4 linked regions of the Homo sapiens genome follow. The protein of the gene in region 1 purifies or fractionates together with the protein of each later gene. This does not show direct contact. Each region holds a gene or a part of one and is shown on either strand. Other genes may lie near its edges.

Region 1 (3,500 bases):
TCAGGGTGGCCGTGCTCTGAGGGCTCAGGGAAGAGGGATGTGATGGAGAGAGGGAGCACTCAGGAGCAAGAGCTGGGGCCTGGGGACCAGAGGGGTGTTGGCAGAAGACTGATGGGGTCTGGGTGGTCCTGGGGCTGTGCACTCTGCCAGAAGAGGGACTCAGTAGGGCTGGCTGAGCTCCAAGCCTGCGCTGTCAGTAACCAGCGTGTCCTGGGGCCTAAGGGGTGGTTGTTTCTCTTGTGAAGCAGATGGTAGGGGACGTGGTTTAAAGTTAATGGGGTTACTCTTCTTTTCAGACTGGAAAAAGTCTATAATCTTGTAAAGGAAACCATGCCAAAGAAGCCGGATGCACAATCAGGTGTGTGAGGGGCTTTGGGCTGGGAGGCCCCGGCTCCTACACTGTGGCTCCGGAAGGGCTGCTGTGCTAGAGCTTGTCAGGCCCGGACCTGGAGAGGGTGGAGGGCTCTCACCGTTCACCCTTCACCCTCCTTCCTTTCCTGCCACCCACAGACCGCAGCTGGTCGCTTGCCCAGCAGCAGAGCCTCAGGGACGGAGGCTTGCGGATTCCAGGGCTGAGTCTGGGTTCCAGGTCTCTGAGGCTCACTCACCCTCTTGGGTCAACAAGCGGGCCCGGAAGAGCTGCTGGGGGGAGGAACTCAGCAGCACCCTTCCCCGCATGACTCTCGGCACGCTGGGACGGTTCTCTCTTCCACTGATGGGGTGGCTGATTTTCGAGAAAGGTTGGGGATGAGACCAGGACGGGACCACTTGCTGCAGCCCCGCGGTCCCCTGCTGGGCTTTTGGCTTCAGATCCCTGTGCCCTCCTGAGCAGTGCTGCCTCCCTCCCCGCAGGGCCTGCCGGGCTGGTCTGTGGGGACCAGCGGATCCAAGTAGCCAAAACCAAGGCCCAGCAGAACCACGCGTTGCTGGAGCGGGAGCTGCAGCGGCGGAAGGAGCAGCTGCGGGTGCCTGCGGTCCCGCCCGGTGTGCGGATCAAGGAGGAGCCCGTGAGCGAGGAGGGCGAGGAGGACGAGGAGCAGGAGGCGGAGGAGGAGCCCATGGACACTTCCCCCAGCGGCCTCCACAGCAAGCTGGCCAACGGGCTGCCTCTCGGGCGGGCTGCGGGCACAGACAGCTTCAACGGGCACCCGCCCCAGGGCTGCGCCAGCACCCCTGTGGCTCGGGAACTGAAGGCCTTCGTGGAGGCCACCTTTCAGAGACAGTTTGTGCTCACGCTGAGCGAACTCAAGCGCCTCTTCAATCTGCACTTGGCCAGCCTGCCCCCCGGCCACACACTCTTCAGCGGCATCTCGGACCGCATGCTACAGGACACGGTGCTGGCCGCCGGTTGCAAGCAGATACTGGTGCCTGTAAGTAGAGCCCTGCCTGCCAGGGGCATGGGGGGTGGGGGGTGGGGAGAACCAGCTGTTGGGAGGCCACGTGGGGACACGGGAGGCCATGCTTGGTGAGCATCTGCTCTCACGTGGGCCTAGGTGTGACATGGGCAAGTCAGCCTCTCTGAGGCTCTATTCTCATGAAATGGGATCATGTTGGGTTTTATGTCACAGGACTGTGGTAGGGGCTAAATACGGTGTCTGAAGGCCCGGCCTATTGCCTGGCCTGCAGCAGGGCCTAGTGAAACAGGGCCCCTGCCTGGTTTCTCACCCTGTCCCCCACCAAGAACACCTGTTTCCTACTAGCTTTGCCATTGTTTGGAATGATTTAACTTCTAAGATCGTTTGATCTTCTTTGCAATCTGCAGATGAAGAAACTGAGGCTCCAAGGAATGAAATGTACGTTTAAAGGTCACTACCTAGGAGGTAGTAGAGCTGGAATTTGGACCTCAGTATAGTGGCCTGGAGTTTTGAATCCTTTCTGCTCAGCTAAGATGAGCTGCTTCCCCACAGCTGCGCCACGCCCCAGCTTGGGCCTGGGTCCTGGCGGCCTCCCTGTGCATCAGAAGCAAGCTGACCAGCTCAGCGCTGTGCTCTCAGCACTTCCAGTGCCAGGCCTTGAGTGTGGTATTGCAAGCCTCCTGCCCCTTCCCCCTGGGCTGCTTTTCTGTCACTGGGAGGGGCCCTGACGGGGGAGCAGAGTGCTTGCTGGGGACCGTTTCCCTGCGCTGAGGATAGAGAGCGCCAGGTGCTGCCTGAGGCACGCCTTTCCCGTGCTCCTTTTCCACAAGGCTCTGCCCAGACCTGGCAGCAAAATGGGGTGAGGTGGGGCTGTGGTGGTCTCTAAGAAAGCATTGATGTTTTCATTGCCAAGGTCAGGAGCGGGCCTGCAGCCTTGGGTGATGATCTGAGGCCAAGGCCCATCCCTGTGTATGAGGAATAGAAACTAGGACAGGAGGCCTTGTGGAGCCTAGGCTGTCTCAGGGGATCGGCCCTGCTGGCAGGCAGCCCCCTGTGGGAGGTACTGGCAGAGTTCGGAGCTCCTGCCCACCCAGCACATGGGTCTGGGTCTCCACAAGCTCACCTTTCTTCATGAGCTGGGCCAGGACAGGCAGGACACCTGCCTGACATTAGTTGTTTTGGGCCGCTGGAGTGGACAGAGGTGAGGGGTGGGACATGGCCACCCTCAGACACCCTCACCCCTCCTTCCGGACCCCCTCTGTCCATGTTGCTTTGGGGTGGGGCCAGCGTCTCCAGGAGACACCATGGCCCTAACTGTAATGCTCTCCTTGCCATCCTGACAAGGAGACTGTATTGTAGTCACATCCAAGACGTAAGAGACCTCCGATCCCAGCCACCTCTGTGTTGTACATGAGGGAGCTGAGGTCCAGGGCAAGTGAATAGATCGAGAACTTGACTTGAACTCCTGGTTCTGCTGCTTATTAGCTGTGTGACCATGGACAGTGAGCAAACCTCTCTGAGCTTACTTTTCCCCATGTACTACCTCCCCAGTTTCTAATGCTCAAATGCAAATGTGTATTGGAGGCCTCACAGGGCTTTTACTGGTAGTAACCATTATTGCTACTTGTGTGATGGAACCAGGACTGGAAACTACCATCCCAGATGCCCCCTCCCCTGTCCCCTTCTCTCCAGGACCCAGGCCTGTGTCACACTTGTCCTGGTCTACCTTTGGACCAAGTGGCCTGGATTGCTTGGGAGTCAGGCAGTGCCTCTAACCCACACTGACATGGTACATGTGGGAAGCAGTTGAAAAGAACCCCCAGGGTACCCCAAGAGTTATGGGGAAGGGGGCGCCCCTCCATCAGGGTTGGCATCTTCAGGAGGGAGGACTCTGGGTGTTAAAGCACAGTTGAGTTGGTGCCAGGCTGATGGGAAACAGACGCAGCTTCCCCACTGTACGGAGGATATCTGCAGACTCGAAGCCGGGCATTTCACTGGGCCCATCACACTCCCCCTCTCGCTGAAGCCCTGTCAGGCCCTGGGGGGTGTGCTGGCCTCCTCCCCATGGTGAGGTGAGAGGCACAGGTTTGTGGCTGCCCAAGGCCCTCAGAGATGGTGAGTAGCAGAAGCTGGGATTGGAACCCA
Region 2 (2,335 bases), on another chromosome or scaffold:
TTAGTGAAACCCAATGTAAGACAGGGCTCTCCAGCAGATTCAGGATGCGATGCTGCAGCAAACAGAGATGCTGTGTGGAGTCTCTTCCAAATACTATTAGGACAATCACATTGCAGACTCCTACAGCTTTGAAATAACGACATGCACACCTGTCAAAAATTTGTCTCCTCCCCACAAAGACAGGGTCTTCTTCTGTCATCCAGGCTGGAGTGTGGTGGGGCAATCACAGCTCACTGCAGCCTCAACCTCCTCCTGGGCTCAAGCGAACCTCTCATCCCAGCCTCCTGAGTAACTGGGACCAAAAGCACACACCACCACAGTTGGCTGATTTTTAATTTTTTTGTAGAGATGAGGTCTCATTATGTTGCCCAGGCTGGTCTTGAACTCCTGGGCTCAAGCAATCCTCCCACCTCGGCCTCCGAAAGTGCTGGGATTACAGGTGTAAGCCACGATACCCAGCCAATTCTTTATTTAGTCATCTTAAAAGGACACAACAGAAATGATATAAAATAACTTTTATTTACATAATTTATATATATATATAACTGCTTTCTTTAGAACAAGAAAATTTATAAATGACATGATATTGCTTTTTCTGTCAAAGACTTCTTCAAGCAAGATAGTATACATGGTCACTTTTGTTTCAAATAACATGATGGTAAACAGTGGATATTAATATTTTTGTCATGCCTCAACCATTTACCAACAATTAGGCGTTCAAATCCTCATGTTGACCACTTGCTAAGACATAAGTGTTCAGGAGAAAAAGTCAAGAAAAGATAAAAACTTTTACTCATATCTCCTTTAAAATTTGTGAAATAAATCCTTTGCAACATCTTCTTCACATGAATCAGACCTAACATAGTTCTTTCCAACATGTAAGGTAAATACATTGATTAACTTTCTCTTTTCCAAAATTAGGTTTAAGGATTTAACAGTAGGATACTTTAGCTGGCTGACTTGATTCTCTAATACAATGAGTCTCTGTATTCTTTATATAGTAAGAAATTCCATTTTCCATAAAACTAGCTCATTATAGATTAAAAAGAAACAGATGTTAAAGTTAAAAACTAATATTACACAAGGATAAATAATAGTTTAATCATGGCAATCTAACTCCCAAGCTAACACTAAGAGAATGAAATCTTTTCAGAATATGAGTTTTAAAAACTTACAAAAACAGGGTATTCAAATAGCAATGTGATTTACTACCATGATTTCTGTGACATATCAATCATGAAATAAATGCCTACTTATAGACAATTTCCGCTCCGAATTATATAGCCTCCTCTCTGACAAAGTGTTACGCCATAAATTTCACTAAAAGACAATGAATAAGAAGTGCTCTAACAGCAGTAGTTTCAATAAATTAGCATTACTGTTATATGTGCTGAGACATAATTCTCTTCTATTAAGGAACTTAAAAACTGGCCACCATTTTTTCAATATACAAACATAATTATCTAGACTCTAAAATATCTTCCCAACTGAAATACTGATCATTACATAATACAGTCAACAGTTTTAACTTTTAGGCACAACTCATAACTTTAGTGACAAATAACTCATCCATACAGATATCAGCACCTCAGGGTAAGAAAATTTGGGGCCTAATGTAGGGGGTCAAACTAAAAGGCCAATCCAGCCACAGTCCTTCATTCAAGTACTGTCTATGGCTTCTTTCACACTGAAATTGCAGAGCTGAGTAGCTGCCACAGAGACCATCTGGCCTGCAAACCCAAAACAGTTTGCAGAAAGTTTCCAATGCCTGAGCTACTATACTATCAATCCAAGAGGCTTTTCAAATAAAATCAGGATAAATTTGCTGTTTGAGAAGTCTAATTGGAACCACTACAGATCTGCTTGGGTAGATAATAGAATTACACGTATAAAAAATCAAATCTTGAAATTAAAACAAACCTTAAATTCATACTGATGATAATCATTAACTTTATAAAGCCTTATTTTCTCTGTTTTTAACATCATGATTATGTTCCGTGCTTAAAGATCCAAGTGTTCCTTGAGAATTTAATGGGAAAAAACTATGAAGAAATTGGCTTTTTAAAAACTAATATTATGTCTGTGGGTGTATAAAGGAGATTGAGCTTTGTATGGAAATTTTGTCTCATAAATAAAGTTGAGTTCCCCCTATCCTCATGAAAATCCTGAGATTATCCAAGAAAAGCAGAAAAATTTACAGTACAAAGTCAATATACTAAACTGAGGGGAAAAAGGTATTCAAAACATATACACCAGCTAAACATTTTTAGTTATATCATTTTAAATATCTTTAAAATTAAACAGAAAAAGGAGACAAACATAAATTTAATGCCTT
Region 3 (3,500 bases), on another chromosome or scaffold:
AAACTTTTGTTCATCAGAAGTTTCAAAAAAAAAATGAAAAGAGAAGCCACAAAGCAGAATGTTAACTGACCATAGAATCATATCTAGAATATATGATCTATAAGAAAAAGACAGACAAACTAATAGAAAAATTTACACAAGGAACTTGAATGGCTAATAAACATATGAAAAGATGCTAAATATTATCAGTAATCAGAGAAATAGCAAATAAAAACACACTGAGTTTTGTTTTCACAGCCCACAAAATTGCGAATGTTAGGAAATCTTTTTGCAACTAGTGGGAATGAAAATTGGTACAGCCTTTTTGAGAAATGGCTTGGCATTTGTCTGGTGAAGTCTTTGCACATTCTCTATAATTAAGCCTTTCTATTCCTTGGTATAAACCCTAAAAAAATTCTTACACATGTACACCAGCATGTATGTATAAAAATGTTTATAGCTGGATAAACAATGTCGTATATACACACAATGGAATATTAGCCTTTAAAAAAAGGAAGGAAATTCTGACACATGCTACAAGGTGGATGAACCTTGAAGATAATATGCTAAGTGAAATAAGCCAGCACAAAAGGACAAATACTGTATGCTTTCACTTATATGAGGTACCTAGAGAAGTCAGATTAACAGAGACAGAAAGTAGAATGATCATCAAGAGAGGTGGGAATGGGAAGTTAGTGTATAGGGTTTCAGTTCTGTAAGATAAAAAGAGTTCTAAAGATGAATGGTGGTAATAGTTGCACAACAGTGTGAAGGTACTTAATACCACTGTGCTATATACTTAAAAATGCTTATGATGATAAATTTTAGATTATGTATATTTTACCACAATTGTGAACATTTTTTAATTGTAAAAAAAAGTTTATAGTAACATTGTAGTGATAGCAAAAAAATTAGAAACAACTCAATTGTCTATAAATGGTAAAGTGTAATACTCTAACAATGGAATGTAGTACACAGTGAAAATTAATAAGCTACAACTACTTGAATGAATCTTAAAAACATAATTTTAAACAAAAGAAGTGGCTAGGTACGGTGGCTCACACCTATAATTCCAGCACTTTGGGAGGCCAGGGAGAGAAGATAGAGACCAGCCTGGGCAACAAATAGAGACCCCATCTCTACAAAAAAATAAAATAGCCAGGTGTGGTGGCACGCCTGTAGTCCAAGCTACTCAGGAGGCTGAAACCAGAGGATTACTTGAGCCCAGGAGTTTGAGGCTACAGTGAGTGAGACCCTGTCCCTAAAAAAAATAAAATTTAATAAGTGAATGAAGTAAGATAAGAATGTATAACAATATTATTCCATTCAAAAAAATGTTTAAAAATAGGCAAAACTGAATATTTTTTAATAGGGATATGTACACAGGTGCTAAAACTGAAAGGAAATGAGGGAATGATTAACACCAAATTTATGGTAGTGGTTACTTCTGGGGAATGCGGAGGGTGATGCAGTTGGGAAGGGGCACATAGAGGCCTTCAAAGGTTCAGTATCTTATTTCTTACCTTGGGTGGTAGATCTGTAGGTTTCCATTTTATTCTTTGAACGATACATTTATGTTTTATACTCTCAACTGTATGTAGGTAATGTTTCATGATAAGAAAAAAACTAGATTTATAATGTTCTTTTCAGTCTTTTTGCAGCAATTTTTGTTATCAAGCATCTAAGTTTTTTGAAGCACAAATTCCCAAAACTCCAGTATGGGTTCGAGAAGAAGAGAGGTAATTTAAGTCATTGTGTATATACATTTGTTCATATATTCTAATAATTTGTTTCTGCTTTTTGAGATTAGCTGAGAGTAAGTCTAGTTTTCTGTAAAAAGTTACCATTTTATATACTTTATGGGGAAATGGTTATATTTTAAGCATAGCTATTAAGGATTTTACACTTAAAATCAGAAAATGCATACATACAAATGTTATTTGTTTGTTGTTTTAGCTTTAATTGCAAAATCAGAACTTTAACTCCAGTGTCCTGTGATGCTAGTTATGTCTGTGAATCCTGTTAATATAATAATCCTGGAGGAAGAATGTTAAATTTTTTCAGAAGTTACTGGGTCTTAGGATCCAGGTGAACTCTGCTATGAGAAAGGTTAGAAAGTTCAGGTTCATTTAATCTTTATAAAAATCAGTACACTATTTTATCAATTTAAAGACACAATTAAAAAGTAATTTTTTTTTTTGTAAAAAGAGTTTATGGGCAATGCTGGAGTTTAGCCTCTTGGGAAATGATTTAAATACTGGCAATGTTTTACTAGATGCTAAAGTCAAGAAAATTTTATTATTGAGGGTGAAATGGCATGATAATATAAAGGTAACAAGTTATCCTTATGGTAATTAAACTGTATTGCCTAGAAATTCCAATGAAATGCTTAATGAGATAATGCCCAAAATAAATTCATGTTTGAAAGAGTGTATTATAGCAACACAAGGCAGTGTTACTTGTGGTAAGGTAGGACCTATGCTAAATAAACTAATGACCTAAACATAATGAGATGCAGGTTAGCTAAAAAGCTCTGGCTCAAAAAAAAAAAAGCAAACCTTGAAGTCTTTTCTGATGCGTAAGGCGATGTAACACCACTCTCAATTCAAATAACATCAATTATGCTGACAACAGCACCTGTGATGGCAGACACCTCTGCCTGCCGATCCAATCCTGTGTGGTTTAGGATATGGAAAACTTAACACTGTGTGGCCCTTGATAATTGAGTTAAACATAATTAAGACTAAATTGTTCATCATTTCACCACCAGTCTGCCAGCTTCCTTGTTGGGAAAATAAAAGACTCTGGCATTGTTCGACATGACTGGGAAGCTAAGAGTACTTTTTTACTTATCCTTTTTCTCCTTTCTTAATATTTCTGTCACTAGAGCTGCCCAGTACTTCCCCAGTCCTCTGAGAGCAACATGTTTTATTCCCCACTGAAACCAGTGTTTCCTCAAGTTATCCTTAACTTTGCTTCCAAAGATATTTTCTCTACATCTTAAATTTAACCCTTTGTGCCACCCTCATATCTACCTCAACTGCTTCAAAACCATTTACCAAATTACCTTTCCTGCCATCTCTGTTTTCTTCAAGCATAGGTATTGGTCCTTCCTTTAGCTAATTTAAAACAAATCTTCCAGCCTGGTGTAGTGGCTCATGCCTATAATCCCAACACTTTGAGAAGCCAAGGTGGGTGGATCACTTGAGTTTAGGAATTTGAGACCAGCTTAGCCAATATGGTGATACCCTGTCTCTACTAAAAATACAAAAATTAATTGGGTATGGTGGCGGGCACCTGTAATCCCAGCTACTCAGGAGGCTGAGGCAGGAGAATCACTTGAACCTGGGAGGCGGAGGTTGCAGTGAGCCAAGATCGTGCTGCTGAACTCTAGCCTGGGCCACAGAGTGAGATTCTGTCTCAAAAATTAAATAAATAAATAAAATGAAGTAAAACAGGTCTTCCTGTAACCTTTTCCTAAAATCTCACCATCCTCTATTCAGAATGCTCACTGTTTCCCA
Region 4 (3,500 bases), on another chromosome or scaffold:
CAACATCTTTACAGCAGAGATATTTAGCTACTGGAGATTTTGGTGGAAACCTTCATATATGGTAAGATGATTTAGTCAGTATTCAGACAGATGAGATAGGCAATTTATTTGATAGTTTCATTACTCTTTCTCTGAAAGAGAGAATTTTAATTTTAAAATCTTTCTATGTTCCATTTTAACTATAAAAATATGAGAATTGTCTCTAATATATATTTCTAGATTTCATATTCAAAATCCATTAAAAAATACTAACCTATTTTTCTTTAGATATTTTGGATAATATTATCAATGCTTATTTTCACACACGCAGTTTGGTGCTAGCATTTAATGCCATGTATTTGTAAATAAAGGTCTGTTCCCCCTCCAACTTTAAAAATACAGTATATAAAAATGCATATGAATAACACTGAAAAAGTAGATATTATTTATATTTCAGCAAGAGATTTAGCACTGCAGAACGTTTGTTTTTTAAAGCTTTAACATCTAAGCACAACTTTTTAGAAACATATCTGTTGAACAAATCAAAATAAACTTTTTTTGAATGGGCAAAATCACAATTCTGCCAAATGCCTTTTTCGTGTTTTACCTAGAGTTGTTTCTTATTTAGAGTGGAATGAATTGAAATTCCTTTTTAATTACTTTGCAGGAAAATCTATTATTTTAATCATTTAAAGTATACAGCAGTGTTCTAAAATATTATGGAGAAAGTTCTAGAGTGTTCTAGAAAACCCGTCTTCCCTGCATCATGTTTTCTAACATGACCTTTCTTGAGTCTCACTTAGAACCTGCTACTGTATAATTACATTACTTATAACATATTTATCTGTCTTAGAATCATAACATTAAACAAAATGGAACTACTTCAATTTCTCCTTGCTTTAACTCCTTAATAATTAAATTAGCATGTATTCATTAGTTCTTAGATGCTTTGTCATATGCTTCGAGAGATACTGTGAGAAAGGCAAGTTTGAATGCTATTTTAAAAAATAAATATATTTCAACACAAGAGTATTCAAAATATTAGATAGTACCATTGACCATCTTTCTAATACAGTTTCCTAGTATAGTACAGATATTACCAATTTACTTTCATTGATAAATCTTATAATTTCATGTTAAAAAATAATGTTTTAAAGTCTATAAAATAGTAAAACAGTCATTTCAAGTAGAACCACAATCTTGTTTAATCTCTTGATTAGTTCATAATGATGATAAATGTCATTTCTAAACTAGGTTGAAATATCTCAAAAAATTTTTTTTGTCTTTGAGATGGAGTCTCGCTCTGTTGCCTAGGCTGGAGTGTAGTGATGCGATCTCGGCTCACTGCAACCTCCACCTCCCGGTTTCAAGTGATTCTCCTGCCTCAGCCTCCCAAGTAGCTAGGATTACAGGTGCCCACCACCACGCCTGGCAATTTTTTGTGTTTTTAGTAGAGATGGGGTTTCGCCATGTTGGCCAGGCTAGTCTCGAACTCCTGACCTCAGGTGATCTACTCACCTTGACCTCCCAAAGTTCTGGGATTACAGGCGTGAGCCACTGCACCTGGCCATAGATTTTTTATTAGTAAGGTTTTACTAATAAATCTTGGCCCAATAATAAATTGGAATTATATTTCATGTATAGTCACATTCATTTAAAAAATCTGTAAGTTATTGAAAACTAAATTATTAAGAGAAATGTAAATAGAAGTTTCCGTAGAAAAGCAAAAGAAGGGGAGAAATGGAGACGGGTAAGAAAAGGAATGTGTGAGGATCACCTAGTCAAGCCATTCATTGCCCAGTAGTGCAGTTGTGGTAATCAGTACTTTCCTGAATGCCTTTCTGTGAATTGACCTATTAGACGAACTTCAGCCTGTCTTGCAGTAATACATATTGTTACCAGTATGATGACACACTGAAAAATATGTCAGTAGAAAATCAGTGTGGACTTCAGTGGGAAAATAGTACATTATAAAGGAAGAAATGTGTACAAAGTAAACACTACTCATATTTTATCCTTTAAAAAGGTCATAAGATCCAACTACTGAGGCCTACTTTGGAAGAATTCTATATCACTTTGAATTTACATATATATATATTTAGATAGAAATATACTAGCTGCGTTTTAACAAAAACCTTTGCATATTTGGTGGATGGAATTTAACAATGAGTATGATGATTTAGTAAGGCCAGCTAATGGTGTCCATCTTCTATTCACCTCCCATATTTTTGTAACAGCCACTAAAACCCAGAATTGAAAAAAACTGTCCTGAGAGCCACGTCCTCAGATACATGGTTGTTTTTTTCCTTTTCTTTCTTTTTTTTTTTTTCTGAAACAGGGTCTTGCTCTGTCACCCAGGCTGGAGGGCAGTGGCATGATCTCAGCTCACTGCAGCCTTGACCTCCCTGGGCTTTACTCTATATTTGAAGCAGTATTTTTTCAGACTTCAGTGTACCACAGTCATTGTTTTGGGGACCCATCTGAAATCCTGATTCATTATGTTTGGGGAGGAGCCCATGAGTCCACGTTTATCAACAAGCAAACCTGGTAATTCATCTGTGGGGGTCTTGCATAGATCGTCTTTGAAGAACACTAAGTATGGTGAGCTCAGGATTGGAATTTCAAGTTGAATGATGACAGTTCTCAATGGGGGCTTGAAAGAAGTTGAATGGAGAGAAAATTTCAGAAGTGTAAATAAATGTATAAACTATCTTCATAGCAAAACCTTAATTTCTATACAGAAAAAATCTAACTATAATATATCTTTTTGAATTTCAGTAGTAGACTTATATGTTTGGGATATGTGGTGTAAGAAGCTGTGTTTGTTGTTTAGGAATTTAGAAGCTCCAGAGATGCCAGTATATTCTGTAAAGGGCCATAAAGAAATTATAAATGCCATAGATGGCATAGGTGGACTAGGAATTGGAGAAGGAGCACCTGAAATTGTGACTGGCAGCCGAGATGGTGAGTCCCTGTATTCTATGTATTTTGTTTATTTATTTTAATGGAAATCTCTATGCAGCAGTACATCCTCTCTGAGTAAAAAATCCCCTTCAGTCACCTTGACTCCCTAAATCTAACAGTCTTGCTGCTACTTTTTTAACAGACAAGTTTGATTGCTTATCTCTCGATTGTTTCAGACTTTTGGCTATTTTGAGATAGATTCATAGCACTTATTAACACTATTTTAGTGTTGAGCTGGTTCAGCTACTAACAATGATGGTTTCCTCTGAACCTTGAAGGATTTAAAATGTCTTTACAGGTTTTTGAGGCAGCTGACGATATAATGTGGGTGGCAGCTTTTCATTTTCTTTTTTTAAAAGGCAGAATTAGTACTTGTGAAAATTGTCATATTGACAGCTGCTTGAAAACTGAAGTTCTGTGATCCATCCACTAAGCATTATAGAGAGTTCCAAAGGCACCAACTCAGCTCTTCCACCCTGCAGTGACCAACAAGGGCCAGGTCTTTTGGTGTCCGAAGTGGTACTGCATGACTTTAATAGAGTCAGAAATGTTGTTGC

The links. The genes of interacting proteins can lie anywhere in the genome.
Region 2: the proteins of POLR3E (region 1) and BDP1 purify together in Homo sapiens (affinity purification with mass spectrometry; 2 studies listed by BioGRID and IntAct, with this or other methods). This does not show direct contact.
Region 3: the proteins of POLR3E (region 1) and RPAP2 purify together in Homo sapiens (affinity purification with mass spectrometry; 3 studies listed by BioGRID, with this or other methods). This does not show direct contact.
Region 4: the proteins of POLR3E (region 1) and DNAAF10 purify together in Homo sapiens (affinity purification with mass spectrometry; 3 studies listed by BioGRID and IntAct, with this or other methods). This does not show direct contact.

What each region holds. Positions count from the first base shown.
Region 1 is NC_000016.10:22,324,909-22,328,408, forward strand, and holds part of POLR3E (DNA-directed RNA polymerase III subunit RPC5), read left to right. Parts: intron 1-296; coding exon 297-358; intron 359-852; coding exon 853-1,370; intron 1,371-1,762; coding exon of another isoform or gene 1,763-1,852; exon of another isoform or gene 1,853-3,500. UniProt on the Homo sapiens protein: DNA-dependent RNA polymerase catalyzes the transcription of DNA into RNA using the four ribonucleoside triphosphates as substrates.
Region 2 is NC_000005.10:71,565,986-71,568,320, reverse strand, and holds the end of BDP1 (transcription factor TFIIIB component B'' homolog), read right to left. Parts: 3' UTR 501-2,335; downstream 1-500. UniProt on the Homo sapiens protein: General activator of RNA polymerase III transcription. Requires for transcription from all three types of polymerase III promoters. Requires for transcription of genes with internal promoter elements and with promoter elements upstream of the initiation site.
Region 3 is NC_000001.11:92,305,559-92,309,058, forward strand, and holds part of RPAP2 (putative RNA polymerase II subunit B1 CTD phosphatase RPAP2), read left to right. Parts: intron 1-1,629; coding exon 1,630-1,718; intron 1,719-3,500.
Region 4 is NC_000002.12:68,144,028-68,147,527, reverse strand, and holds part of DNAAF10 (dynein axonemal assembly factor 10), read left to right. Parts: coding exon 1-61; intron 62-2,812; coding exon 2,813-2,943; intron 2,944-3,500. UniProt on the Homo sapiens protein: Key assembly factor specifically required for the stability of axonemal dynein heavy chains in cytoplasm.